Linked DNA regions of Homo sapiens. The protein of the gene in region 1 purifies or fractionates together with the protein of each later gene. This does not show direct contact. Each region holds a gene or a part of one and is shown in the gene's direction. Other genes may lie near its edges. The genes, in order: ARRDC1, ZMYM2, HECW2 and WWC1.

What was found.
Region 2: the proteins of ARRDC1 (region 1) and ZMYM2 purify together in Homo sapiens (affinity purification with mass spectrometry; 5 studies listed by BioGRID and IntAct, with this or other methods). This does not show direct contact.
Region 3: the proteins of ARRDC1 (region 1) and HECW2 purify together in Homo sapiens (affinity purification with mass spectrometry; 5 studies listed by BioGRID and IntAct, with this or other methods). This does not show direct contact.
Region 4: the proteins of ARRDC1 (region 1) and WWC1 purify together in Homo sapiens (affinity purification with mass spectrometry; 4 studies listed by BioGRID and IntAct, with this or other methods). This does not show direct contact.

The regions. Positions count from the first base shown.
Region 1 is NC_000009.12:137,600,820-137,608,698, forward strand, and holds the start of ARRDC1 (arrestin domain-containing protein 1), read left to right. Parts: upstream 1-4,866; 5' UTR 4,867-4,898; coding exon 4,899-5,016; intron 5,017-7,879. UniProt on the Homo sapiens protein: Functions as an adapter recruiting ubiquitin-protein ligases to their specific substrates. Through an ubiquitination-dependent mechanism plays for instance a role in the incorporation of SLC11A2 into extracellular vesicles.
Region 2 is NC_000013.11:20,059,705-20,066,727, forward strand, and holds part of ZMYM2 (zinc finger MYM-type protein 2), read left to right. Parts: intron 1-1,348; coding exon 1,349-1,520; intron 1,521-3,141; coding exon 3,142-3,267; intron 3,268-4,746; coding exon 4,747-4,841; intron 4,842-7,023. UniProt on the Homo sapiens protein: Involved in the negative regulation of transcription.
Region 3 is NC_000002.12:196,317,545-196,324,567, reverse strand, and holds part of HECW2 (E3 ubiquitin-protein ligase HECW2), read left to right. Parts: intron 1-1,947; coding exon 1,948-2,090; intron 2,091-4,128; coding exon 4,129-4,229; intron 4,230-4,642; coding exon of another isoform or gene 4,643-4,663; coding exon 4,664-6,016; intron 6,017-7,023. UniProt on the Homo sapiens protein: E3 ubiquitin-protein ligase that mediates ubiquitination of TP73. Acts to stabilize TP73 and enhance activation of transcription by TP73. Involved in the regulation of mitotic metaphase/anaphase transition.
Region 4 is NC_000005.10:168,420,638-168,427,660, forward strand, and holds part of WWC1 (protein KIBRA), read left to right. Parts: intron 1-1,370; coding exon 1,371-1,460; intron 1,461-2,895; coding exon 2,896-3,431; intron 3,432-7,023. UniProt on the Homo sapiens protein: Regulator of the Hippo signaling pathway, also known as the Salvador-Warts-Hippo (SWH) pathway.

The DNA.
Region 1 (7,879 bases):
AAAATAATAATAATAATAATAATAATAATAATAATAATAATAAACCACCCCAAAACTTAGTGGCTTTAAACAACTATGTATTTTCTCATGATTCTGTAGTTTAGGATGGGCTTAGCTGGTTGGTTCTGCTGTTGTTGGCTAGGGTGGTAGGTTGTGTCAATTGTCACCATCAAATTCTCCCCTCCACGTGAATGTGTGTTGCTCCTATGACTTTCTTTTTTTGTTTGTGTTGTTTGTTTTGAGATGGAGTCTCGCTCTGTCACTAGGCTGGAGTGCAGTGGCGCAATCTTGGTTCACTGCGACCTCCACCTCCCGGGTTCAAGCAATTCTCCTGCCTCAGCCTCCCGAGTAGCTGGGACTACAGGCACGTGCCACCACGCCCAGCTAATTTATATATATATATATATATATATATATATATATATATATATATATATATATTTTTTTTTTTTTTTTTTTTTTTTTTTTTTTTGAGATGGAGTCTTGCTCTGTCACCCAGGCTGGAGTGCAGTGGCGCGATCTCGGCTCACTGCCAGCTCCGCCTCCCGGGTTCACACCATTCTGCTGCCTCAGCCTCCCGAGTAGCTGGGACTACAGGCACCCGCCACCACGCCCGGCTAATTTTTTGTATTTTCAGTCGAGATGGGGTTTTACCATGTCAGCCAGGATGGTCTCGATCTCCTGACCTTGTGATCCACCCGCCTCGGCCTCCCAAAGTGCTGGGATTACAGGCGTGAGCCACCACACCCGGCCTAATTTTTGTATTTTTAATAGAGGTGAAGTTTCTCCATGTTGGCTAGGATGGTCTCGATCTCTTGACCTTGTGATCCACCCGCCTCAGCCTCCCAAAGTGCTGGGATTACAGATGTGAGCCACTACACCCAGCCTTGACTGTTTTTGTTTTGTTTGATTTTGAGATGAAGTCTCACTCTGTCACCCAGGCTGGAGTGCAGTGGCGTGATCTCAGCTCACTGCAACCTCCCCCGCCGAGCTCAAGTGATTCTCCTGCCACAGCCTCCTGAGTAGCTGGGATTACAGGCACGTGCCACCACGCCTGGCTAATTTTTGTATTTTTAGTAGAGATGAGGTTTCACCATGTTGGCCAGGCTGGTCTTGATCTCCTGATCTCAAGCGATCTGCCCGCCTCGGCCTCCCAAAGTGCTGGGATTACAGGCATGGACCACTGCGCCCAGCCTGTTTCATTGCAATTCTTCCAGTTAACGCAAGCTGTGGGCCAGCCTAGGTTCCAGGGGAAGCCCCCCGGTGGGAAGAGCAGCAGGGATGCAAAGGTGGGCGGGATCTTTGAGGAGGGACCACCACGCCCTAGGAAGGAGACTGCTGAGGTAGAGGAGGGTTTTGGAGGAGGAACCATGAGACTGACACGTGTTTACCACACTTTTCTTTTCCCTCCCTCCCTTCCTTTTTTTTTTTTTTTTTGAAATGTAGTTTCACTCTTGTCGCCCAGGCTGGAGTGCAATGGCCCAATCTTGGCTCACTGCAACCTCCACCTCCTGGGTTCAAGCGATTCTCCTATCTCAGCCTCCCGAGTAGCTGGGATTACGGGCGTGTGCCACCACCATGCCCGGCTGATTTTTTTTGTATTATTAGTAGAGATGGGATTTCACCATGTTGACCAGGCTGGTCTTGAACTCCTGACCTCAGGTGATCTGCCCACCTCGGCCTCCCAATGTACTGGGATTACAGGCAGAGCCATTGCGCCCGGCCCACACTTTTCCTTTTCTGTATGTTATTATGCTTTGACATCTTGGGGGCTTTACTAGTCAGGGAGATGCTGCCCCTTCCAGGGCTGGCTAATCCCCAGAGCTAGCAAACAACTTTATAAACACCAATCCAGAGCCCATATCCCCAGTCTCTTCCTGATCTGACTCTCACACCCCAAGCCAGCATTTCTCCTGCCCTGCATCCCCCAGGGACAGATACCAGACGGCTAGAGCCCCCTGCTGTGACCTAGAGTCTGCTGACATGATTCAAGCTATCTAATCCTAAACTTGCTCACACTTACCTACCCTGCCTTGTCCATTTTCACCCTGAGGAAAACACAAAAAAGGCTCTGGGTCATGCTCTCTCCTGGCTCCTCCTGACCCTGGTACTTCCCCTTCTGGCCCTGCGTGGCATGGCAGGGCCCCTCCTCCTGAGAACCACGAGTACTAAATCCTTCCTTTGTGGCACTTGTCTTCTAGTCTGTCACTTTACTATACCTGATTCAAACAAAACCCAGGTACTTTTAGGATATAGGGCAGGAGGCTGGAAGGATTGCCTGTGTGGATTCAGAAGCACTGAGTTTCCACACTTGGAGATGGAGGGAATGACAGTGAGTTAGGAGCTAAAATCACCAAGAAATGAAGATGCCGACCAGAGCGAAGGTGGTGCTGGTGATTCTGAGACCAGGAAGCTTACACATGGTAGCTCCCAGGGTGGAGAATGGCCTGGTAGTGTTAGGAAGGAGCCAGGAGGGCCCCAACCCCACCTACAGACCCAGAGGTAGAGGGATCCTGCGAAAAGATATCTCTACACCCGAAAGCTCCAGGGGAAGCCAGGTTTTCATGAGAGTGCAGCTAGAAGTATGCTTGGAGAAGAAGAGTCTAATGACAGGGCGGTTGGTGCTGGTGGTGGTTTCTGGAACACAGGATGGGTGGGAGATAGGGTCAGAATCAAGGATGTGCAGAGTCCTGTGGGGCTTAGATTGTGGCTGACCTGGGATAAAGGCCACCTGTGTTCTGTGTCCATTGTCTTCCATCTCAGTAGCTTGCAATACAGTCTGTCTGTCCCTTGCTTGAAACACTTTCTTTTTTTTCTTTTTCTGTTTTTTTTTTTTGAAATGGAGTCTCACTCTGTTGCCCAGGCTGGAGTGCAGTGGCGTGATCTTGGCTCACTGCAAGCTCCGCCTCCTGGATTCACGCCATTCTCCTGCCTCAGCCTCCCAAGTAGCTGGGACCACGGCGCCTGTCACCACGCCCGGCTAATTTTTTTTTTTCTTTTTGTATTTTTAGTAGAGACGGGGTTTCACCATGTTAGCCAGGATGGACTCGATCTCCTGACCTCGTGATCCGTCCACCTCGGCCTCCCAAAGTGCTGGGATTAGAGGTGCGAGCCACCGCGCCCGGTGAAACACCTTCTTTCTGACTTCTGGCATGGCCGACTGCCATTCGGGAGGGCTGTCCACAATCCTTGCCATCCCATGGCACCCTTCTCTCTTGTTCGGGAATTCTGCCTGTGCATAGCCTTGGCAGGAAAGTGTCTGGAGCATGGCCAGTTAGACCCACCTCCGGAAACATCGGAATCCTAAGGGAGTGAGCTGGGCCTGGGGCTTCAGGGCCTCTCCCAGCCTGGCCCGGGGGCCCCTCCAGCCTGTGAGCCCCTTTCTCTTTGCTGGGGTGCCAGACTCCTCCTCCCTGACCTGTTACCTTCTACCAACTAGGGATGGCAACATTTTAGTGCTTGACTCCCAGGCTCATGCACGGAAGTACTTGGTCCATTGGGGATCAGTGGCACCTCAGACTCTGCATGTGATGACCCTCCCACCCCCAAACCATGTGTATCTAGGTCCGTCCTCCCCATCAGAGAAGGCCACCCTCTTCACCGGCTGTCCTAGAAAAACTCGCAGCACTGGGGCCCGCACACCCACTCCGTGGTGAGCTGGTCCTTGTCGAGCGACGCCTTCCCTCTCCAGGACTACCCAACCGGTCTCTCCCGCCTTAGGTCCCCTGGGTATTTGAGTCCCACCCCCCGCGGCTCACTCTCTACAAAGGGACCCTTTAAAAAAGATAAATGGGAGTGTGTTCCTCCTGGTTTCAAGTGATCCAAGTCCTCGCCCCACCTGGCCCCCGACCCTTCTGCTGCGGACCCCTGCCCAAGGGCCTCCGCCCAAGTGTGGCTCCCTTGGGCCCACACCCCATCAGGCCAGCAAGGAGGGGGATAGCGGGGGGCGGGGCAGGTGCTGGGACTCCGGGCAGGTGCGGGGAAGGCAGGGGGCGGGGGGGGAAGGGGTTGGGCGATGCAGGTGTTGGGGGCCGGGACAGTTGCGGGGGTAGGCAGGTACCGGGAAGGCGGGAGGGCGGGCAGGTTCCGGAGGGGCGCGACAGGTGCTGGGACGCGAGGTAGGTGCGGAGAAGGTTGGGGGTGCGGGGCAGGAGCCGGGGGTGGGGGTTGAGGCGGGGCAGGTCCTACGCGGCGGAGCATCCCCGCCCAGGACGCCCGCGCGGCCCCGTGACGTTTTTCCGCGACTCGGGGTGAGGGAGACCCCTGGGCGGGACGGGCGGAGGGTGGGGGCGGAGGAGTGGGTTCTGCCCGCAGCAGAGTGCAGCGGGGAGACCTTCCCAGTCTCAGAGCTCGCCTCGGCCCCGCCCCCAGCCCTGCCCCCCGACGGAGACGCGGCGGTGACTCCCTCCGTGGGGGACGCACGGGACGCTTGCGCCTCAAGTCCCTTAAGCGGCGCCCGACGCAGCGCAGCACCTACCCAGCCGGGACAGGGCCAGGGCCGGGGATGGATGAGCGCGGCCGGGGGGCGGGGCAGGGGTGGGGCGGCCGAGGCAGGGGCGGAGCTGGGAAGGCGAGGCAGGGGCGAAGGGCGGGGGCGGGGCGAGGAGGCTGTCAGAGGGGCGGGGAATAACGAGGGGGCGGGGCCACACGGACGGATGGGGCGGGGAATAGGGGCTGGGCCGGGCCTCCGAGCGGCAGTCCGCGGGCTACGGGGCGGCCGGGGGGCTGGGCGGGGCCGTGGGGCGGGGCAGGGCCTGGGAGGGGCCGGATGGGGGTGGAGGCCGGGATTGGGACGGATGGGGGCGGGGCATAGGAGGGGGCGGGGCCGGGCCTCGGAGCCGGGACTCGCGGGCGGCGGGCGGGGGCGTCGCTGCGCGGCTGGCCGGTGAGGCCGCGGCATGGGGCGAGTGCAGCTCTTCGAGATCAGCCTGAGCCACGGCCGCGTCGTCTACAGCCCCGGGGAGCCGTTGGCTGGGACCGTGCGCGTGCGCCTGGGGGCACCGCTGCCGTTCCGAGGTGGGCGCGGGTCCTCGGGGAGGGCCTTTGGCCGCACCTGCGCGGGGCCAGGGCTCCCGGAAGCGGCTGCCGTCGCCTGGCCCCGGGTTGGGCCCGCGGAGTCGCTGTCTTCGCCGCCCGGGACTGCTGGGAAGCGGGCTCGGCGGCGCCGGGGAGGTCCGGGCGGCGCCGCCCTTCCGCGTCTGCCCTTCCTGCCCTCTCGCCGAGGGGCGGCGGGGTCCCGGCGGGGCCTGAAGCGGGTCCACTGTGGAGGACGCCCTGAGCGCGGGCGCACGCAGGCCTGCGACCCTCCCCGTCCGCGCTCGCACCTGCTGGGCTCCTTCCCGCACCCTGGCTCCCGGCGCAGGCGCTCCCGCTGCAGAGCCGCTCCTGGCGCGGGCGTGCGGTCCCGGCGGGGTGCAGACACCTGCTGCGGCTCCCTGCGCCCCCTGCCACCCGCCAGCAGGCCTCGCCGGCCCCCCGCCGAGGTGGACGCCTGGGCCTCGGGGACTGGGTATCGGGTTGCTGCAGTGGCCGCTGGCAGGGCGCCCTGGAGGTGAGGGCCGGCCCGCGAGGTGAGGCTGCCTCTGCCCGGCCCTTGGCTGTGAGTGCCGCGTCCCTGCCGGGGACTTCTCTACCTTGGCCTCCTGTGGGAACCACCTGGGCTGCTTGGCCTGTGCCACAGCCCCTGGACTTGCCGCTGGACCTTGACCGCTGGGCCCGCGCGTGGGTAACAGCACCGATTTTGTGCCTGCTGAGAACCCACAGTCTCTGTTCTGTCCTCTCAGCCTCCTGGGACAGGTGATGGTGCTGTGGCCCTGACCCTGCACCGCCTGAGGCTGTGGGGCCTCGGAAGAAGCCGGGTGGTAGGTGCTTCTGTCAGGCTCCTGGCCCCACTGGGCCTCCTGGGATGACCCCACAGCCTCCCTTCCTCTGTCCCAACCTTGAGTTTGGGGTCTGGGTGGGGGCAGGTGTGGCCGTGGCAGGGCAGAGATAGCACACACATCTCTTGGGTACAGGTGTGGTGTGTGGTGAGGCCGGCTGGATCCTGGTTGAGGGCTGTGCAGGACCCTGTCGTCCTTCCCCTGGCGTGGCCTGGGGTGAGCAGGCCATTGCTTACCACAGGGAAGGGACGGCCCCGCGGTGCGTGACTGGCCTGGGTGTGCAGGCTCCCCTGGCCTCCGGGTGGACGTGGTGGGTGGGTTGAATGCTCACGCCTGTAATCCCAGCACTTTGGGCAGCTGGCCCAAGAGCCGAGGGAGCACTGGCTGATGGTCCTACCTCACAGAGGCTGGTCTGAATGAGGGAGAAAAAGGAGGGTCGTGAGCTAAGGAGTAGGAGATGGGCCCTGATGGGCCAGAGAGCACATGATTCAGGCTGCTGCAAGTGAGGTGGGAGGGTGTACCGGGGCCCCCGGGGGTTTCCCCCAGCCCTGCCTGGGATGGGAACAGAAGGACCATGGTTTCTTTTCCTCATTCAGAGGATGCTTGTCAATCCTGCTAGGAGCCAGTAGGGAGGCCCTCAGCCCCCAGGAGGACAGCAGCCCTGCCTGGGCCCCAGAGCTTGCTCACTTACTCTGCCGATGAGTGTCGGTGACAGTCAGCACCCAGCCGTGAGGACACCGGCTGTCTAAAGGGCTGACGCGGAGGGAGGCCTGGGAGGGAGCAGTTTTCTGGAGCTCAGGCTGGCCCAGTCCAGGGCTGGGGTTCAGGCAGGACCACTTCTTGTTCTGCTGTTACTGGGATGGGCGACCAGGGCCGACAGTGGTTCTCGGAGCACTCATGGTGGGCCCGATGCAATTCTCTCCACGTGCCACGGGCCAGCCTCAGTTAACCCTCAGCGCCCTGGCAAGTGGCACGGTTGTTACTCTCATGATACAGATTTGGAAACAGGACTGGGGGAGTGGCTTACAGGTCACAGCTTCTGTGGCAGGCGTGAGTCCTTTGGGATGAGGATGAGGAGTGGGTGGGTCTTCATGGTCCAAGTGCAGGTGGTGCAAGGGAGGGGCTGCTGAACAGGTGGGAGCCCCAGCTGGAGAAGAAAGTTCCAGTGGTCACTTGAGAACGCAGCCCAGTCATGATCTTCCTTAGAGTCAGAGAGGCCTGCAGCCTCCAGCAGCTTGTCCTTGCTTGTGCATCTGAACACAGGAAACATTTTTTATTTTTATTTTTTTAATTTATTTTTTCGAGACGGAGTCTCCCTCTGTCGCCCAGGCTGGAGTGTGCCGGCGCGATCTCGGCTCACTGCAAGCTCCGCCTCCCCGGTTCACGCCATTCTCCTGCCTCAGCCTCCTTAAGAGCTGGGACTACAGGCGCCCGCCACCACACCCGGCTAATTTGTGTATTTTTAGTAGAGACGGGGTTTCACCGTGTTAGCCAGGAGGGTCTGGATCTCCTGACCTCGTGATCCGCCCGCCTCGGCCTCCCAAAGTGCTGGGATTACAGGCGTGAGCCACCGTGCCTGGCCAGGAAACATTTTTTAAACCTGCATGGGGGAGGAGGGACAGGGCTTGCAGGGCCCCTGCAAAGAGGTGCAACGTTCAAGTCCAGAAGGCGGAAGAAGTCACACTCTGACTAGGGGACTGCCACTGAGCCACTCAGTCCTGCAGCCAAGCCCTGCCTGGTGGCTTTCCTGTTGCGAAAGGCTCGGTTCCCTTCAGCGTGTTCTGCCATCACAAGCAGTCTGCAAGCTGGAAAGAAGAGGGAGCGGGGTCGTATGCCGCCAGCAGCAGGGAGACCCCTCACAATGGACCCCATGTATTGCTCTGGCTTCTCCGTGGGCAGAACTGCATCCTGTGGTCCTGCCTGATTCGATGATTTGAAAAGGCAGAAACATGGCCGCTGCCATTGGCCTGGCCAGTGAAAACGGGCTCCCTGGGAAATTC
Region 2 (7,023 bases), on another chromosome or scaffold:
TATGGGCGGCCCTCTATATTGGCAGGTTCCACATCCGTGACCAAACACAGACTGAAAATACAGTATTCTGCCTGTAATCCCAGCACTTTGGGAGGCTAAGGTAGGCGTATCTTCAGCCCAGGAGTTCAAGACCAGCCTGGGCAACATGGTGACACCCTGTCTCTACTAAAAATGTAAAAATTAGCCAGGCACAGTGGCATATACCTGTAATCCCAGCTACTTGGGAGGCTGAGGTAGGAAGATTGCTTGAGCTTGGGAGATGGAGGCTGCAATGAGCCGTGATTGCACCACTGCACTGCAGCCTGGTCTACAAAGCAAGTCCTTATCTCAAAAAAAATGAAAATAAAAAATTATTTGAGGATGTGAAATCTGTGTAGAAGGCTGACTGTAGGGGTGTGGAACTTGAGTATGCATAGACTTTGGTATCCATCCACAGGTGGTCCTGGAACCAATCCCCTAGAATACTGAGGATAACTCTAGTTGCAGTTACTAGTTTAATGAAGCTAATAAAACCATCTTTACCTTTCTTCGACAGTTAACTTAGATTTGGTTGAATCTCTGTTGTCATGATTGATTGCTTTGTGTATAGTATGTATATGTTCATCCTCGAGAGTGACATTTCGCGGATGTCTGTGCCTGCTCTGTGCATATTAAGTTTATATTTGGGTTCATTTTCAAAAGGAATATTTGTGGGCCATGTGCAGTGGCTCACGCCTGTAATCCCAGCACTTTAGGAGGCTGACATGGGCAGATCACCTGAGGTCAGGAGTTCAAGACCAGACTGGCCAACATGGTGAAACCCCCTCTCTACTAAAAATACAAAATTAGTTGGGCATGGTGGCACATGCCTGTAATCCCAGCTGCTGGGGAGGCTGAGGCAGGAGAATCGCTTGAACCCGGGAGGCGGAGGTTGCAGTGAACTGAGATAGCGCCATTGCACTCCAGCCTGGGCAACAAGAGTGAAATTCCATCTCAAAAAAAAAAAAGAAAAATATTTGTGAAGCCATAAGGTTTAGAACTGAAACATAGAATTTCATATAAAATATTATTTTATCCCAAATCACTTGCAGTACTTAGAAGAACACTGTGTCAGGGCTTGGCTATTATAGTCCCCTGGGGGACAGAAATACTTCAAAAATTCTTTTTCTTTAATTTGAATTCCAAAAAGTAGATGCTTGTATTCTAGGCTTTCTTATCACAGTTAACATCTTAGTTTTGTATGTGTTCTTTTCAAAGCTTTTATCCAGTGTGATATTACAAAGTAGATCATGTGTCAGAGTAATTTTTAATTTGGAAAAATACCTTTTAATGTTTAGTAAACCTAACTCAAAATGATTTGGTTAATTAGGTGCCAGTTCCTGTTTTTCTGCCTGCTCCATTGGACAGCAGTGAGAAGATTCCTGCAGCAATTGAGGAGCTAAAAAGCAAGGTTTCTTCAGATGCTCTTGATACAGAGTTGCTTACAATGACGGATATGATGAGTGAAGACGAGGGGAAAACAGAGACAACCAACATCAACAGTGAGCTACACTAAATTATACCTTGCGAATAAGTGTTAACATTGGTTATTTATAAGTATTGTTACAGTACTTTCCAGGGCATATCATTTTGTTTCAACTTATGTGGGGGTGAGGAAAGCATTGTAACAAAAATGTTTTTTATATTAAGAGATCTACACTGTATTTAGCCAGGTGCCCTCAGACAGATATCCGAAGCAGGAATTTGGTCTTTGGTCTCTGTTTTAAGCAGGATTTGACTTGTAAAATCAACTCAAAATTATTCTTGTTAATGGAGTAGTGCTGATGCAAAACTATAATAACTTGTAGTAGACTCTAATGATGATCAAAACTCTTATTTTGTAATAGTTATCCCTAGTTTTTTGTTTTGTTTTGTTTTTTTTTTTAGATGAACTCTTGCTCTGTTGCCCAGGGTGGAGTGTAGTAGCATGATCCCGGTTCACTGAGATCTCTGCCTCCTGGGTTCAAGCTATGCTTCTGCCTCAGCCTCCTGAGTAGCTGGAATTACAGGCACGTGCCACCACGCCCAGCCAATTTTTGTCTTTTTAGTAGAGACAGGGCTTCCCTATGTTGGCCAGGCTGATCTCAAACTCCTGACCTCAGGTGATCCACCTGCTTCCCAAAGTGCTGGTATTACAGGTGTGAGCTACCACACCCAGCCCCTAGTTTTCTTTTATTGCTTATACTAATAAAATAATTTGCATTATCTAAACCAGAGTTTATCTTAACCTCTGTTAGGGCAGTGCTTGCGCTACATGGTATAACGTGATGAGTGTGTTGTGGATGGTTCTAAGTCACTTAGAATATTTATTTTCCACCCTTAACCCTCTCTTGATACCCAAAGTCCTATTTCAACCTTGAGCTAATTCTTACCCTTACCCTAGAGGACAATCAAAATACTATAATTTTCTCTGGATTTAATAATGAGACAGTGTTTTTGAAGCACTGTGGTAAGGAGTTGTGAAATTAGTGGGTTGCAACCAGTGTTTTTGTTTAAGAAAAGAAAAAGCTAAGTGGAATAGGGTAAGAGAAATGACAGTGTGAATCCCTCATAGAAAGGGTAAGTATTATTTTGTGAAACCAGTGTGTATACAGATGTCTTTCTGTTCCCCACCATCACCTTGCAGTATGTGCTGGATAAAATGCATTTCTTGCCATGATTACAACACAAAAACACTTGAAAGCAACTGATCGAACCATTAAAAGGCAGTTGTTAATATGCATATATTGAACAATCTGAGAAACCTGGGTCAAAATTCAAAGAGTATTGAAAACTACAGTTGTCTACCCTCATTAGTTTATTTTTGACAAAAAGTTGCTTTTAGAAATACTTTACTTGTTGAAGTTGTTTTACTATCAAAGCATACCTATTAGCTTTTGAAGGGAGTCCTCCTGTAAAATTTATAGGATTAAAAGTTTTCATGTGCTTGTGACTAATTATGAGGTTTATAGTGGTTTACATTTTGAGATAGTTATATATATAATATGCCCTTTTCTTTTGTGACATTATACGTATTTTTTTATATTGCATTTAAAATTAAATGACTTGCTTTTGCCAGATTAAATACAGATACCATTGGGGTTTTCTGTTTTGATTCCTAATGATAATATGGATTGATTTCAGGTGTAATTATTGAAACAGATATAATTGGTTCAGACCTTTTGAAGAACTCTGACCCAGAGACACAGTCCAGCATGCCTGATGTACCATATGAACCAGATTTGGATATCGAAATAGATTTTCCCAGAGGTACTCAAAACCTTTATGACTATGGAATTTAGTTATGGAGTCAACTGTGGTTATGATCATTTACCATTTGATGTTTGTGTCATTGCCTTTTAGCAGTGTTCATATTTTTTATTCTTGTTATTTTTTAAACTCACCTTAAGAGTTAACTTCATATTTTGTTGTTGTTTTTTTTTAAAAACCCACCTTAACAGTTAACTTCTGGAATGAGATCACTTGAGTCCAGGAGTTCAAGACCAGCCTGGGCAATGTGGTGAAACACTGTCTCTACTAAAAATATAAAAATTAGCCAGGCGTGGTGGTGCATGCCTGTAATCCCAGCTACTCGGGAGGCTGAGGCAGGAGGATTGCTTGAGCCCAGGAGGTAGAGGTTGCAGTGAGCCGAGATTGTGCTACTGCACTCCAGCTTGGGCAGCAGAGTGAGACCCTGTCTTTAAAAAAAAAAAAAAAAAAAAAAATTCTAGAAGTAATTCATTATAGAAAGTTTAAAGAAGTGTTTGTGTCCTTTTTAATTTAAAAATGTTGTTAGCATCTGGGTGCGGTGGCTTATGCCTGTAATCCCAGCACTTTGGGAGGCCGAGGTGGGTGGATCACCTGAGGTCAGGAGTTTGAGACCAGCCTGGCCAACGTCGTGAAACCCCGTCTCTACTGAAAATACAAAAATTAGCTGGGCGTGGTGGTGAGTGCCTGTAATCCCAGCTACTGGGGAGGCTGAGGCAGAATTGCTTGAACTCAGGAGGCGGAGGTTGCAGTGAGCCAAGACTGCACCATTGCACTCCAACCTAGGCAACAAGAGCAAAACTCTGTCTCAAAAAATATATATATATAAAAAATATATAATATATATAATACATAAATATAATTTTATATATTATATACATCATGATGTATATAATATATAAATATATACAATATATAATATAAATATAATTTTATATATAATATATATTTTATATATATTATATAGTTTTTATATATATAATATATATAGTTAGCTTTTTTTTAAGATCCTTTGAAAATTAAGTTCACCTTCAAAGGAAAAATTATTTTCAGGTCTTTTGTAAAATAAGTGTGCCCCATTTTTCATTATTTTCTTAATCCATGGATGGCTAATGAGCACACTGAGTAGAATGTAAAACATTAGTTTTTGGAAAAAACATTTAATAGATTGAATCAGATTTGTACCAAGACCATTTAGATCTTGTAATTGGATTTCAGACTATAATAATTTTTCTGGTATCATACATTTTCATGAAAATTTTATGTTGATATTCATTTTATATATGTTTTTAGGAGTTTGAACAGTGTTTGTCAGAATTCACAAACCATGTTAGGTACAATGAGTCATTTACTCCCCAGCCCAGCCTAGATTGTCCCCATGTATGAATGCTGGTTTACATCCTGTGGTTAGTTCTTTGTTGGCTGTGTTTATGTAACCCTGTGCTATTTCATTTAAAATAAAAGTTCTGATTTGGTTGTCAGCTGCTGAGGAGCTTGATATGGAAAATGAATTTTTATTACCACCTGTTTTTGGCGAAGAATATGAGGAACAGCCCAGACCTCGATCTAAAAAAAAGGTACATTCACTTAATAGCCTATATAACAATATTTCTCTATAGGCAAACAAGGATACAGTGTTCTTTTAGTGTGCCTGAGAATATGGGAACATATTTTGTTTTCTAGGTTGGAAAATAATTTATTTTCTATTTATATAGAATATAGTAATAATATATTACTGCTATTTATTACTATTATTTATTACTATTTCTATTTGTATAGAAATAGTAATTATTACTATTTCTAGTAATAATAGTAGTAATAATTTATTTCTAGTAATAATTTATTACTGTTTCTAAGTAATAAAAATATCTCAGATTTAGTTGATACCTCAACTAAACTTGTATTGATACAAGGTCAAAATAGAAAACAGTTGCTAAAGTAGTAAGTTCAATTATTTGACAAAAATTTAGACTGTTTTCTAGGGAGCTGTTTTTTCCACGATTATTTCTGATGAGATGATCAGTGGGGTTGAAGTACACAGTTTATTATTTCTGGTCTCTTTTAGGCATACCAACACACATAGAAAGACATGCTGGACAGTTTGATCATTCAGGTAGACCAAATCTACATGCATTAACAAGTGTAATTGTTATAATATTCTGTCAACTTTCTGTGTTTCTGACTTCCAACATAAAGCAGGTTTTAAAAATACCTTAAGAAAGATAGCTTTCACAAATTGTCCCCAAAAGAAAGAAAAAAAACCGGAAAAGGGAGAGAATACTTGGAGTGGAATGAAGGTGGACTTCTGCTTGACACCAAACACAACAATTAACTCAAAATGAGCCATAGACCTAAATGTAAGAGCTAACAATATAAAACTCTTAGAAGAAAACATAGGCCTAAATCTTAATGGCCTTATGTTAGGCAGTTTCTTAGGTAAGATACCAAACGCACAGGGAAGAAAAGGAAAAATAAATAAATAAACTGGACTACATCAAAATTAAAAACTTTTGCATTGCAAACAGTGCCATCAGGAAAGTGAAAAGGGGGCCAGGCACAGTGGCACCTGTAATCCCAGCACTTACAGCACTCAGGAAGGCTGAGGCGGGAAGATTGGTGGAGCCCAAGAGTTTGAGACCAGCCTGGGCAACATAGTGAGACCTCTACAAAAACTAAAAAATAAAAACCAGCCAGGCATGGTGGCACGTGCCTGCAGTCCCAGCTACCCAGGAGGAGGATCGAGGCTGCAGTGAGCTATGATCGTGCCACTGCACTCCAGCTTGGGCAACAGAGCAAGACCTCTCCTCAAAACAGAACTCCAGCATGGATACTTACCTGGCAGGGGAGATACCGTGATTACAAAACTCTAGCATGGGTGACAGAGCAAGGCCCTGTCTTAAAAAAACAAAAATAAAACAATAAAATAAAAAAGTGAAAAGTACTTAAGTGTCACTCTCTATAAGGTGGAGTTGTTGAAAAGTTCTTCAGTTTCTGTTACAGTAATATTTAGATTATTAGTTTATTGTCTTATATTTATTTTCTCATCATTGGTGACTCTCACCACAGAATTTAATATGATTTTGTTGCACAAAGTGATTTATGTAGAAACATCACATTTCCTGGAATATTAATTGACTGTTGTCAGATTCAGGAATACCAGTCAGTTCAAAGCAAATACCTATATTTCATTTTTTCTTTTCTAATTTCATGACACATTAAACAAATAACTATATTTTTATGACAGATTAAACAGATAACTATATTTGTAATTACAGATGACCGTTGTACAATGCAGTGGTTGGGCTCTGATCCCCCCTGCACAGTCACAAATTTGTGTATAACTTTTGACTCCCTAAAAAGTTAAGTACTAGTAGCCTACTCTTCACTGAGCCCCCCTGCACAGTCAAAAATTCATGTATTACTTTTGACTCCCTAAAAAGCTAACTACTAGTAGCCTACTGTTGACTGGAAGCCTTGCTGATAACAGTTGATTAACACATATTTTATATGCTACATACTGTATTTTTATAATAAAGTTAGCTAGAGAAAATGTTATCAAGAGAATCATATGGGAGAGAAAATATATTTACGATTCATTAGGTGGAAATAGATCATCCTCATTGTCTTCAAGTTGAGTAGGCTGAGGAGGAAGAGGAGAGAGGTTGATCTTGCTGTCTCAGGTGGCACGATTGGAAGAGGTAGAAGGAGGTTGGAGAGGCAGGCACACAGAAAAACATACGTGTCCAAGTGGACCCCTGC
Region 3 (7,023 bases), on another chromosome or scaffold:
TTTGATATTTTGTTGTAGCATACATTTAGTACAAATTAAAGGAATTTCTCTCTCTGCGGGCTTTGGCAAATGTTTTATGAATTTCTAGAGTTTTGTTAATTAGATGAGCCATTCAAGGAGTCATCATCCTGAGTGAAGCCAGATTGTGTTGATGGTATTTTAGACTTCCTCACAGCTACAGTATGCTACCAGTCATCTTAGTGCACCATATCAGTGAAATCAAGCAAAGGGTTTTCTCATTTGAACTACGGAAAGTCAAAGAATGAACAAATAGACACTTCTTATCTAGTGAGCAAAGCTTGAGCTCTCCCTCCATTTCTTGGAGATCTGAGGCATGTTTTACATAACTAGTGTGAAAATCTTTCTGGGCTGGCATAGGAGTTACACAGTTAATTAGATCATACCCTAAATATTTAATGACAACAATATGTTCTAACAATATTGTAGAAATATTTAATTGGAGAGAGGTATATCAGGGGATCTAAAACCGATTGCAGAAAAGATATAGTTATCTGAGACTTGCCAACACAGCAAGGCATTTCTCCTGGGCAGTTCCTATGGTTTTAGATATTGAATATTGCTTGTATTCTTACACTTGGTTTAAGAAACTACTAATGATCTCATCATGGTAAAAAAAAAAAAAAAAAACAAACAAAAAACAAAAAAAACTCTTAAGGGCATGCCACTTAGTCTAATGCATTTCAAAGCCTAGAAGAAATAAAAATATATCTCAATATGATTCTAGAAAGCACATAATAGATATGATAATGAAACAAGCAGTAACTATTTTCCTAACATTTTAAATTTGCAAAGTTTTTGACCATGTCACCAGTGCAAGCCTGAAAGGGAGGCACGAAGGATGAGATTATTATGTCTTCATTTTGGTGATTAAGAAATTGAAGCTTAAAGTGTTTATGGGACTAGCTATTCAGAGACAGAAGTGGGGATTAAACTCGGCTTTTTTATTCTAAGCAAGTACTTTTTTCCATTAAGCAGACTGCCAAATTGCTTGGCCCTTTGGAAAACCTTAATTGTTATGACTAGATAAACCTAGAGGCACCTAAGTGAAAAGTTGGCTAACACTATTCACATCACTATAGTTGCATGGATACTGTCAGGGAAGCAGTGAAATAATTTAGGTTAGATTCCTGGCACCATCATTTACTTATCCTGAGATTCTCATCTTCAAAAAGAAAGTTACATCGTTGTAAAGATAAAGTGAAGATAATATATGTAAAAGTCTCTGTGAGTAAAGCTCTTCATATTTATTTTATATCCTTATTAATGTCCGATCCAAATTTCCCCAGTGGCATTCTTAAAATGAAAACAACAAAAGCTATCTTAACCTCATACTTTTATTTTTCTGTCCCAGAAGAAATGACCCTGTATGCCTTTTAAACTTAAGGAAAAATTCCATTTAAACATTCTTTTAACATTTATCAGGGAAACCACAGTATTCTGCAGATGTTCCTATTTTAACCACTAAGTGGAGGAGTATTTTCAACTATGTTTTGCAACTTCAGAATTTCATGAGATTAGGAATTCAAATTGTCAATCAAATATACTAGTTAATTCTAATCCATTCTATAACAAGATATTAAATATCAAAGAATTGAGATACAATAAATGTAGGGAGTACTAAAATTGCATTGTGCATAACTTAATATTTGATAACATCTCCTAAAACTGTGAAACTAGGAAGGGCTGCATGATTGACTGAGAGGGCTTCTTTTGTCATACAGATCCTTGACTGCTGCTTTTTAATCATGGTGAATGCTAATCATTCTGAGTGAATAAAGGATTGACAATAGCTGCAGCTATTTCTAGCTATGTGGAACTCTGTATGTTGTTAGAATTTAAGAGATACCATTTCCTATACAAATAAAATGATATAGTATCATATTTGTCTTTCTTTTAAACCAGCATGTTATCTGTTTGTGTTTTCAGAAATATTCCTTTTTTGCACTTCTTACTGATGTCTTAGAAATTGAAATTAAAGACAAATTTGCCAAGAGCCGTCCCATCATCAAGCGTTTTCTGGGGAAACTAACCATTCCAGTCCAGAGGCTGCTGGAGCGACAAGCCATCGGGTAATCAGCCCTTACCTTTGGGGATCTTGTTGAGATTAGTTCATATAGGAAAAAATGACATGAAACTTGGTAGTCCTAGGACTTTTCATACTGATAAGAAGTAGTAACACAATTCTTTTAAAAATAAAAGTGTCCTTACACTTATTAAAATGTACTTGACAAAAAAGTAGTTTATTTTAATTATATATGTTTTTTGCGTCTTTATCTTTTCCAAGATGTACCCACTGTTAATATTTCAGTGTCAAATCTCATAGTGTTTGATTGTCTCTCAGTATATTGGAGCTTTTTATAAAAACTTCTCCCTGGGGCAGAATTCTTGGATCAGGTTGATGCCTACCTTATCCTAAATAATTCCATCCAGAGAACTTGTTACTCTTGAAAAACGGAAACAATCTTGTCTTGGAGCCATTTAAAACGAGACCTAGACTTGAAGAAGTGTTATAATAAAGCTCCTAGACATATACATTCATTCAAGCAACTAAAATTTATTCATTGACATTCTCTTAAAATTTAATGTGTAATTAATGTCTATTTTCTTTTTGTGAGCTTTTTGTAAGTTGTGAGTAAAGTAGTAAGTCATACTGAGGAGATAGAGAAGACCAAAAACAAGTTATGCAAATTAATAATGCATAGCTGACTAGAGGCTCTAAACTGTACAGTGGAGCAAAGAGTAGATAGAAGAAACATTGTATCTTCCTTCTGAAATAGCCATTAGAGGGCAGAGGTGGAGTGATTTGGCACTATCCTTTTGATGATTTTCCTTAATTAAGAATAAGTTGGCCGGGCACGGCAGCTCATTCCTGTAATCCCAGCACTTTGAGCGGACGAGGTGGGCAGATCACCCGAGGTCAGGAGTTCGAGACCAGCCTGGCCAACATAGTGAAACCCTGTCTCTACTAAAAATACAAAAAAATTAGCTGAGTGTGGTGGCGGGCACCTATAATCCCAGCTACTTGGGAGGCTGAAGCTGGGAGAATTGCTTGAACCCGGGAGGTGGAGGTTGCAGTGAGCCAACATTGCACCACTACACTCCAACCTAGGCAACCCGGGCAACAGAGCGAGACTCTGTCTCAAAAAAAAAAAAAAGAGAGAAAAAGAATAAGTCATTTAATTCAGAATAAGATTGTTACTTGTGTGCAGGAAAATGAAATGACTGCATTTGACTTTGATAAAGAAACAGACTTGAAACAGATGGAAAACTCCATCCTTCAGGAGGCAGACAGTCCAAGCCCGGGGCCCAGGCAAGGCAAAAACTAAACCTGCTTCCAGATCTGGGATATGACCCCACCACAGGGGCACATCTGGCTTTGCCAACCATCCCATCAGCACTGCTTACAAGGCACCCTGAGAATCAGTGATAGGCCAGGCTTCCCAGCAGGGAAGGCCAGCAGCTCCAGCCTCCTTACTCTACAGGTGAGGAAGGAGAGCTTAGCGGTCCTCTCCCCATCACACAGCCAGGGCTGCTGTCTTGGCTATGAAGGGCGCTTTCATTCTTGTGTTCTTGTGCTTCTCTCCCCTAAGTCCCAGCTCCTGTTCTTCAGGGCATAGCACAGTGCCCTACGTGCCATGTTGGGTGATAATCCTTAGCTGTGAGTGTCCTTTTAGAACCAGCTTTCTGTTGTGCTAAATGCCGAGGAACCAGGCTCTCTCCCCTTTTACACCCGAGTCAAAAAACCCCTAAAACTTGAGGCCTTTCACAACTCCTTTATGACCTTCAAAATGTCCTTTTCCTGGTCACCCTTAAAAGTGAGAGAGTGAATCAGTGTCCTTAAAAATATCACATAGCATATGATGTCTTGTGCTCGTAATAATAATTTTTCTTATGGCAACATTTCCTTTTATCTCCGGGTTTATAAGTGTTCCATTTGTATGAATGAATAATATTACATTGGACTATAATGGGCTTTGAGCCTTTAATGTTCTTGTGAGTCTGAAAGTTTTAAGAGAGATAGGAGGGATTTGGTGGGTGGCCTGTGGAAAGACGGCGAAGGCTGACTCCAGCGTAGTCAGGATGAAAGAAGCATTTCTCTTCTTGCAGTGATCAAATGCTCAGCTACAACCTTGGCAGAAGGCTCCCAGCTGACCACGTGAGTGGGTACCTCCAGTTTAAAGTGGAGGTTACGTCTTCTGTTCATGAAGGTGAGATATAAATATATCTGTATGAATACATTGCTATAGGAAAAACTTGTTAAACCTAACTCGATTGTCAGTTTGCTTCTGAACAGAATTGAATTCATGTTCTGTTTTGAAAGTAAAATAGCTGTCAAATAATTACCTGCTGAAATTTTCTAAGCAAGTAGGAAAGGCTGTTTGCCCAAAAATGTCTCTTAGATTGATGCCTGCATTTTGAAACTGGGCTGTAGAGTTTTCAGCCATGCTAACATACATAGCTCCTGTGCCAAGCTGACTAGCAGTCTCCTCATTTAGTAGTGAGTGGTGAATCTTAGCAAGTCAGTAGAAAGCCCTCAGAATGACTGATTTCTTTGAACTTATTGGTGGCAAAGCAAATAAGTCATAAAACGTTCACTTATTATTTCTGGTTAATTTTTTAGAAATGCTGTTTTCTCATTCAGATGCCTCTCCAGAAGCTGTTGGCACAATACTTGGAGTCAATTCTGTGAATGGAGACTTAGGTAGCCCTTCCGATGACGAGGACATGCCAGGGAGCCATCACGACAGCCAGGTGTGCTCTAATGGGCCAGTTTCTGAGGACAGTGCTGCCGATGGAACCCCCAAGCATTCATTCAGGACTAGCTCCACTCTGGAAATAGACACAGAGGAATTAACCTCTACGTCTTCAAGGACCTCACCTCCCAGAGGACGTCAGGATTCACTCAATGATTACTTAGATGCTATCGAACACAATGGCCACTCCAGGCCGGGGACAGCGACCTGCTCTGAGAGGTCCATGGGTGCCTCTCCGAAACTGAGGAGTAGTTTTCCCACTGACACAAGACTCAATGCCATGCTTCATATTGATTCAGATGAAGAAGATCACGAGTTCCAGCAAGACCTGGGTTACCCATCTTCCTTGGAGGAGGAGGGAGGCCTGATCATGTTTAGCAGGGCATCCAGAGCTGATGATGGAAGCCTGACATCTCAGACAAAGCTGGAGGACAACCCTGTTGAGAATGAGGAAGCCTCCACACACGAAGCTGCTTCCTTTGAGGATAAGCCAGAAAATCTTCCAGAGCTTGCAGAGAGCTCCTTACCTGCAGGCCCAGCCCCAGAGGAAGGTGAAGGCGGCCCAGAGCCTCAACCCAGTGCTGACCAGGGCAGTGCTGAACTGTGTGGCTCTCAAGAGGTAGATCAGCCCACAAGTGGCGCAGACACAGGGACTTCCGATGCATCAGGAGGAAGCCGAAGAGCCGTCAGTGAGACCGAGTCTCTCGATCAGGGCTCTGAGCCTTCCCAGGTGTCCTCTGAAACAGAACCCAGTGATCCTGCCAGGACAGAGAGTGTGAGCGAAGCCAGCACCAGGCCTGAGGGAGAGAGTGACCTGGAATGCGCTGACAGCTCCTGCAATGAGAGTGTGACCACGCAGCTGTCCTCTGTGGACACACGGTGCTCCTCTCTTGAGAGCGCACGGTTTCCTGAAACCCCAGCCTTTTCTTCTCAGGAGGAGGAAGACGGAGCCTGTGCAGCAGAGCCCACCAGCAGTGGCCCTGCCGAAGGGTCGCAGGAATCCGTGTGCACTGCTGGTTCTTTACCTGTGGTACAGGTGCCCAGTGGGGAGGATGAAGGGCCAGGGGCAGAATCGGCCACTGTACCTGACCAGGAGGAGCTGGGGGAGGTCTGGCAGCGGAGGGGGAGCCTGGAGGGAGCTGCAGCTGCTGCCGAGAGCCCACCGCAAGAAGAAGGCAGTGCTGGGGAGGCCCAAGGCACCTGTGAAGGGGCAACTGCCCAGGAGGAGGGCGCTACTGGAGGTAGGATATGGACACCACTGTGGCTCTTGGCTCGAGCGTAGCTGTGCAGAGAGAAGTTCTGTAGTTTTCCCCTCAATGTAAATAAGGCTGCAGGTTACATATGACCTGAATTCCTCACCTTGAGGTTCAGCAGGCAAGAAGAGAGGCAAGATTGAAAACAGGGCCAGGAAGAGAAGGAAACAGGTAACAAATGAGTGGGCAGCTGAAACCCTTCCTCTAGATTAGGCCTCCTGTTTCTGAGCGGGGAGACCTTGGGACTTAATCACATAGCTAGGAAGAAGGCAGCATGGTTTGCATCCAGATGGGCTTGAGTTCAAATTCAGTGCTCTTTTAAAAAATGGCTCTTCTGCTGCTGAAGTAACAGGCCTGTTAAACAGCAATCTTCAAACTTAAATAATGGGTCTCTATTGGAACCGGGGTTTGTAGATACACAACCAAACAGGCTGGCAGCTTCAACCTTAGTGTAATCTGCAAAGGTTATGAGAAACACCTAGCCACTCTTCCTTTCTAAAATTTCACAGTGGAAGATTAATGTATGCTATGCATCAAAGGTAGTGTTTTTGTCTTCTACAATTTAGGAATGTCAACTAAGTTAGGTGATGTCTTCTGACTTGGAGAATAAGCTGTTTTTGTATCCAAGGACACAAATTTACACCTGAAATTTGTATTACGCTCAGTGAATGCAGCTCTCTAGAATGATTCCTTTAATATGCCCTGTAAGGATGCATTAAAAATCAAAGAGCAATTTCATATGTCTGGCTGGCATAACTCAGAAATAGGAATGATTTTCTTTTTCTGTAATGTATTTTTCTACCTACATGATCCCCTTCTTTTCTTCCTCCTCCTTTTTTTTTTTAAATTTTGTTTCCTTCATTATATTGTAGCCACCATGTGACCCTAAAGCATTAGCGCATGACCAGGACAGAGGCCGTTATGGGTGAGGGATGAGGCAGGGGAAGCTGCAGGAGCGGGGGATACATGCAGAGGACATTTCTTCAGGAAGCCCT
Region 4 (7,023 bases), on another chromosome or scaffold:
TTCTCTTCCCCCGGGATCCTCTGCCTCAGCCTTTTCCTCTTAGCAGATGCCATCTGCAGGGCCACTTGGCTGCCCGTAGCAGTAACCGCACAGTCTTCCACATTTACTCCCTCAGCCTCAGCTGCTCCTGCAGCCCAGGCACTGTCTCTGTCTCTGCATTGCTCAAGCCTCCACCATCTCGGTTACACCTCACAGCCACCCTCCCCGCCTTCAGTCTTCAGCCTCCTGCCCATTGTCCTCCCCACAGTCATGGTGACCTCAAGATGATAAGGTCTTTGCTAAAGCCCCTGCTTGGAATGTTCTTCCCTCCTGCACTTTTCCTAGCCAACTGCTGTCCATTATCCATCCTTAAATTTCTCTACTAGTCAGGAATCTAACTGCTGCAAGAAACAGCCCCCAAAGTCTCCGTGGCTTCATACAACGGGTTTATTTTTTGTTCATATAATGTCTAATTGGGTATGTCCAGTTAACAGGCAGCCTTCCATGTGGTCATTCAGGAACTCAGGCTCTTTCCATCTGTGACGCCTCCCCTTTGAGTCCACAAGAGTCCATGCAACAGACAGTAAAGAAGACACACACACTTTTCTTAACTACTAGTGCTCACATCCCATTGGCCAGAACTTGGTCATACGCCCTGCCCACCCGGCCACAGGGAAGGCTGGGAAAATGGTGGAGGCAGGGTACACACCACCAGTCTCAGCCACAGAGTCACTTGACTGGAAGAGGCTCACCTGCCAGTTCAAATTGGGCCTCTCCTTTTGTGTTCTTTTCTACCATTTGTACTTTTTCTTCATGGACCTTGTCACACACTGTGTTAATTAGATATTTGAGTATTTCTTTAATATCGGTTCTCCCCAGTAGAATGTAAGCCCTATAAGAACAGAAACAAGTCCTACTGTGCTCACTCACTACTTTATCCCCAGTGCCACAGGCAGGGTCCAGTACAAAACGGGCATTCAGTAAATATGAGCTGAAAGATGGAGGAAGGAAGAGAAGGAGGGTATGGTTGGGTGAAATCCTAATTCTGCCACTAATTCCACAGCTTTAGGTAAATTATACAACTCTAAGGGCCTCGATTTCCTCTTATGTAAAGTGGTAAAAATCATTCTTACTATGCAGCATTATTGTGTGACTGAATTAAGGCAGTGTCCTAAGGTTCCCAGCAGAGTGCCTGATATATATATATAGTGGGTGAGTGATATTGCAGTTATCATAGGATTATAATATATGTGGAAGCTCTAGCTCCCCAGATGCCGTGGTCAAATGCTTTACGGAAAGTTCTTGTGCCTGTGGGTCTGGGTGTACATGGGTAAGAGTGCATGCCTGTGCTTCCTTTTGGTGCATCCCTCGCATGCTTTCTCTCCTTCCAGGTTAAAGTTAAACAGTAAGAGGAACCAGCTTGTGAGAGAACTGGAGGAAGCCACCCGGCAGGTGGCAACTCTGCACTCCCAGCTGAAAAGGTGAGTGGTGGGCGGTGAGGCCACTGCTCCCCTGGGCATGGCCAGACATGGGTGTCCCCAGTGTCCCAGCCCAGGCTCTACCCTTCACTTGTCCTCCGTGGCTTGAGAGTGGATGTTTAGAAGCATAGCAAATGGATTGTCAGCAGACTCGGGCGTGGCCTGGTGTAGCTAGGAATAGGGGTCTTGACCTCTCCAGACTGATAGCACAAAGAAGGCCCCAGGCAGGTAATAGGTAGTCTTAAGAGACTCGGCTGGGTGTCATGGCTCACACCTGTAATCCCAGCACTTTGGGAGGCCAAGGTGGGTGGATCGCTTCAGCTCAGGAGTTTGAAGCCAGCCTGAGCAACATGGCGAAACTAAAAATACAAAATTAGCTGGGTGTGGTGGTGCATGCCTGTGGTCCCAGCTACTCAGGAGGCTGAGGTGGGAGGATGACTTGAGCCCGGGAGGAGGCTTACCGTGAGCCGAGATTGTGCTACTGCACTCCAGCCTGGGTGATAGAGCCAGACCTTGTCTCCAAAAAGAAAAAAAAAGCCTTAGGAAACTCACACTGCCACCTACCTGCACAACACAGAGAATGTAGCCTCAGACCTGGGCCTCCATGAACAACAGTGCATCAGTGGAATTCAATAACATTTTGTTCCATTAGATTTTTTTCTAATGGTGGTCTTCTCTTTGTAGTAAGTGATACTGCTTTTCAAATTACACTTAGGATGTAAAGTTTCCTTTTAATATAGATGTTTTAAAGTATTAAAACAGTGAGTTGGGGCAGGCGTGGTGGCTTACGCCTGTAATCCTACCACTTTGGGAGGCCGACGCAGGCGGATTGCCTGAGCTCAGGAGTTCGAGACTAGCCTGGGCAACACGGTGAAACCCCCTCTCTACTAAAATACAAAAAATTAACCGGGCGTGGTGGCAGGTGCCTGTAGTCCCAGCCACTTGGGAGGCTGAGGCAGGAGAATTGCTTAAACCCAGGAGGCGGAGGTTGCAGTGAGCCGAGATCGCCCCACTGCACTCCAGCCTGGCGACAGAGCAAGACTCCATCCCCCCCCAAAAAAAAAAAAAAAAAAAAAAACACAGTGAGTTGATTTCAAGAAAGATATTAAGAAATCTTTATTACATAATGGATTCAACTATGAAAACATATCATACAAATGCAACGTAGCCAATTGGAGCTTTGGGAAACACAGATTTAGAGGAAAAAGTGGACTTTTAAGGCAGCTATAACTTGAGTCCAAAGCCCAGCTCTGCCATGTCTTGATTATGTGGCCTTCTTGGGGTATCAGTTTTCCATGAAGTGGGGGTGAAGGGTCTACCCTAGAGATTGCCAAGCAAGTCTAGTGAGATCATGGTGCTTTCCAGAGCTCAGCAGAAGGTCTCAGGGGGCCCACTTCACTGTGTGCATCTCACTGTCCTTCCCCTCCCTGTGTCCCAGTCTCTCAAGCAGCATGCAGTCCCTGTCCTCAGGCAGCAGCCCCGGATCCCTCACGTCCAGCCGGGGCTCCCTGGTTGCATCCAGCCTGGACTCCTCCACTTCAGCCAGCTTCACTGACCTCTACTATGACCCCTTTGAGCAGCTGGACTCAGAGCTGCAGAGCAAGGTGGAGTTCCTGCTCCTGGAGGGGGCCACCGGCTTCCGGCCCTCAGGCTGCATCACCACCATCCACGAGGATGAGGTGGCCAAGACCCAGAAGGCAGAGGGAGGTGGCCGCCTGCAGGCTCTGCGTTCCCTGTCTGGCACCCCAAAGTCCATGACCTCCCTATCCCCACGTTCCTCTCTCTCCTCCCCCTCCCCACCCTGTTCCCCTCTCATGGCTGACCCCCTCCTGGCTGGTGATGCCTTCCTCAACTCCTTGGAGTTTGAAGACCCGGAGCTGAGTGCCACTCTTTGTGAACTGAGCCTTGGTAACAGCGCCCAGGAAAGATACCGGCTGGAGGAACCAGGAACGGAGGGCAAGCAGCTGGGCCAAGGTAGAGAGCACCATACCCAGAGGGTGGGAACCAGGAGGAGGGAAAGAGATACTCTGTGCTCAGAACCCCCCAGTGATCATTCTAGTCGATATTTACTGACTGCTTCTGTGTGCTGGGTCTTTGTATGGCAAGTATATTTATTCAGTGGATGTTTATTAACTCAGTATTTTTGAGGTCCTGTGTGAAGGGTTTTCAGTAGTAGATTCTGTCCTCCAACAGACATTTAGCACCTCATAAAACTAAATGTCAGGTCATCCTGTGCTAATGGATATACATGGATTCATCTATTCATGATTATAGATATGCTGGGTGCCAGGCACTGGGTTGGTCACTAAGGATTCTGTGTTGAAGACAGACAGGGTCCCTGTTCTCATGAAGCTTATGTTCAAATGGAGGCACAGGGAATAAACCTGCAACCAAACAAGCACTACAAAGAAAATAAAACAGGGAATGTGATCCAGCCTTTCTGGTTAGAGGTGGGACTGCCAGGGCAGGTTGGGTTGTGAAAGAAGATGACATTTGAGGGTGTCTTGAATGGTGAGATGGAGCCAGCCTTGGGAAAAGCAAGAGCAAAATCTCTGAGGTCAGAGCAAGGGACTAGAAGGGGAGCCAGGAAGCCATGAGTCAGAGGTAGGGGGTTACCAGTGAGGCTGGAGAACTAGGCAAGAGTCCAGATCCTGAAAGGCCTGGTGGGCTGTGCTAAGGAGTTTGGATTTTATCCTAATTGCACTGGGGACCCATGTGACCGTTTGAAGCCAGGAATGATATGATCTGACTCCCATTCTGCATGGGGTCAGAAAGAACATTTTGGTGTTGGCCGGAATTTAAGTTGGAATCTTCAAAATAGAAGATGATGCTGACATTGACAGCTAAGATTTATTAGGAGAAAACCTTTTTATCTTTAGCAGCAACCACATAATAAATCATAATAGTTAACTTTTATTGGGGATATATTATGAGTTGGGTAATGTGCTTGATACATGGTGAAATCAGTTATTTCTATTCTGTCCATTTCACTGGTGAGGAATTGGAGATTCAGAGAGGTGATGTCACTTGCCTTAGGTCACCCAGCCAACAAGTGAGGAAGCAGGGATAGGAACCTGAGTGTTTCTGGCCCCGGAACCCAACCCCCTTATTGTCATGCCTTAGGCTGGGAGGCAGTTCAGCATGCACATTCATGCCAACTCCTGGTGCTTGGGGCCCCACCAACCCCATCTGGCTCTGGGTGTGAAGGTCAGGACTGAGTAGGATGCTCAGTAAACTCACCTGGGCCTTCTTGGCTTTCCTGGCCACAGTAAAAATAGCTCACAATAATCATAGCTATGATATATAGCGTACAGGTGTTTAGGATTTAGGTACTTCTCTGCATATTTACTCATTTAAGCCTTACAACACCTCTGGGAAGTGGGTGCTATTTTTAATCTCCTTTTTTTTTTTTTTTTGAGATGGAGTCTCACTCTGTCACCCAGGCTGGAGTGCAGTGGCACCATCTGGCTCACTGCAACCTCCACCTCCTGGGTTCAAGCGATTCTCCTGCGTCAGCCTCCCGAGTAGCTGGAATTACAGGTGCACATCACCATGCCTGGCTAATTTTTTTTTTTTGTATTTTTAGTAGAGGCGGGCTTTCACCATGTTGGCCAGGCTGGTCTCGAACTCCTGACCTCAGTTGATCCACCCACCTTGGCCTCCCAAAGTGCTGGGATTACAGGCGTGAACCACCAAGTCCAGCCCCTTTTATCCCCATCTTAAAGATGAAAAAAGTGAGGCACAGTGAGGTTAAAAGACTTGTCTGAGGTTAGTCCCACAGAGTGAAATGGCAAGACCAGGACTGGCACAAGGACCACCTGCTCAGAACGCACACTGTTATCCATGTGCTGAGTTCTGTCTACAAAAAGCTGGTGCTCCTGGCTCCAGGTGAGGCCAGCTAGAAGCAGCCAGACCCATGTCAGCTCTGTGGCTCCAGGCATGGGCAGGAGTGGTGCTGCTGTGCCCAGAATTATCCATGTGTGTACAAGGGCCAGTGGGAGCATGGTAGGGAAATGAGGTTTCCTTGTTAACGAAAGGCTTTGAGTGCCAGTGGTTTCCTTAGAAGAGGAGCCGAGAGATCCCTGGGTTTCCCTCATCAGGAAGGGAGTCTTGCTGAGTGCTCTCAAAATAAAAGCAAGCGCCCTACTATAGCAGGTGGCAAGCCTCAGAAAATTGTTCCCTGGAGAGGAGGGGGTGCAGGTGGAACCTCTAACAAGGCTCAAAGAGCATGCCTCTGATATCAATATTAAGCCAAGTCAGGACACTCAGACCCCAGCTATGTCCTGTGAAGTGACCCCCTCCTCTCCCCTCCCTAACAGTGTCTTTGGGGCTTGTGGGCCTCAGACAGCACATTAGGCTGGGCACACACAGGTCTCGGGATGGCATTTCCTTCATGCCATCTCCAGAAGCCTTCCCTGCAGCAAGCAATGCCAGGCAGAGCTTAGACGCTAAGCAGGTTATGTGATTAGTGCCGCTGTTCAGTCAGCAGACAAATTAATCTCCTTAAGTGGTTTAGTGGAGGGTGGAGATGCGTGGGTCTGAAAGCAGGAGGTCTCCGCGGGCTCAGCAGGCATGGGACGCAGGCTCAGCTTCCCCATCACCAGCACTTGCAGTCTCCCAGACCCGCCTTGTCACCCATCGCCGTCCCCGGCCTGCCATGCCCTGGACTCTGTGCCCCTCAATGCTGCGAGCCCTTGCCCTGCTCCGGTCTGCCCGCAGGTGCTCAGAGGTGTTAGCTGTGAGGTTGTAAGATCTGGATCTGGCCTTCCCCGCTGCAAGGAGGGCAGGAATTGTCTTATTCATCTTTGTAGTTCTGAACATGGCAATGGGCCTGGCACATCGTGAGTGATCATTACTTGGGCAAGGAAGGAATGTGCAGCACGTGTTGAGTGCTTAGTTATGAGCCTCAGATCAGAGACTTTCAAGGGCCCCTGTTAAGGTTAGGGAAGAGGAGGAGCTGAATTCGGAGTGGAAAGGGATAGGCAGTGGAAGAACGGGTGCTTAATCTCTCCCTTCTCTGTCCTGAGGGTCCAGGGGCTGTTATTTTGCCCCAGGTGGGTAGGGATGGATCTGTTAGGTTGATGCAAAAGTAATTGCAGTTTTTGCCATTGAAAGTATGGATATCTACAGTGATAGGAACAGTAGTGGCAATAAGGATAGTTGTAATGAGTTTTGCAGAGCACTTTGCCTGCCTGCACCAATCTCTATATTAAGGACTTCCCTTATAATGTCTCGCTGAGTCCTGTCAACAGCCCTATAAGTAGGTATTATTATCCAAGTTTTACAAATGAGGCATCTGAGGCTTAACAGGATTAAGTCAGTATCTCAAGGTCATGAAGCAGTGAGTGGTGGAGCCGGATTTGAATCCAGGCAGTTCGACTCAAGAGCCTGGGATGGTAAAACACAAAATCACATGTGACTCCTTCCATCACCCTAAAGCAAACTTTTTTTTAATTTTTTTTTTTTTTTTTTTTTTTTGCTTTAGCATTTAGAGGTGGTTGGAATTTGGTGGAACCGTCTGTCTTCCATAGAGAGTGTATCAAAATTGGGAGTTCAGGCTCCCCGA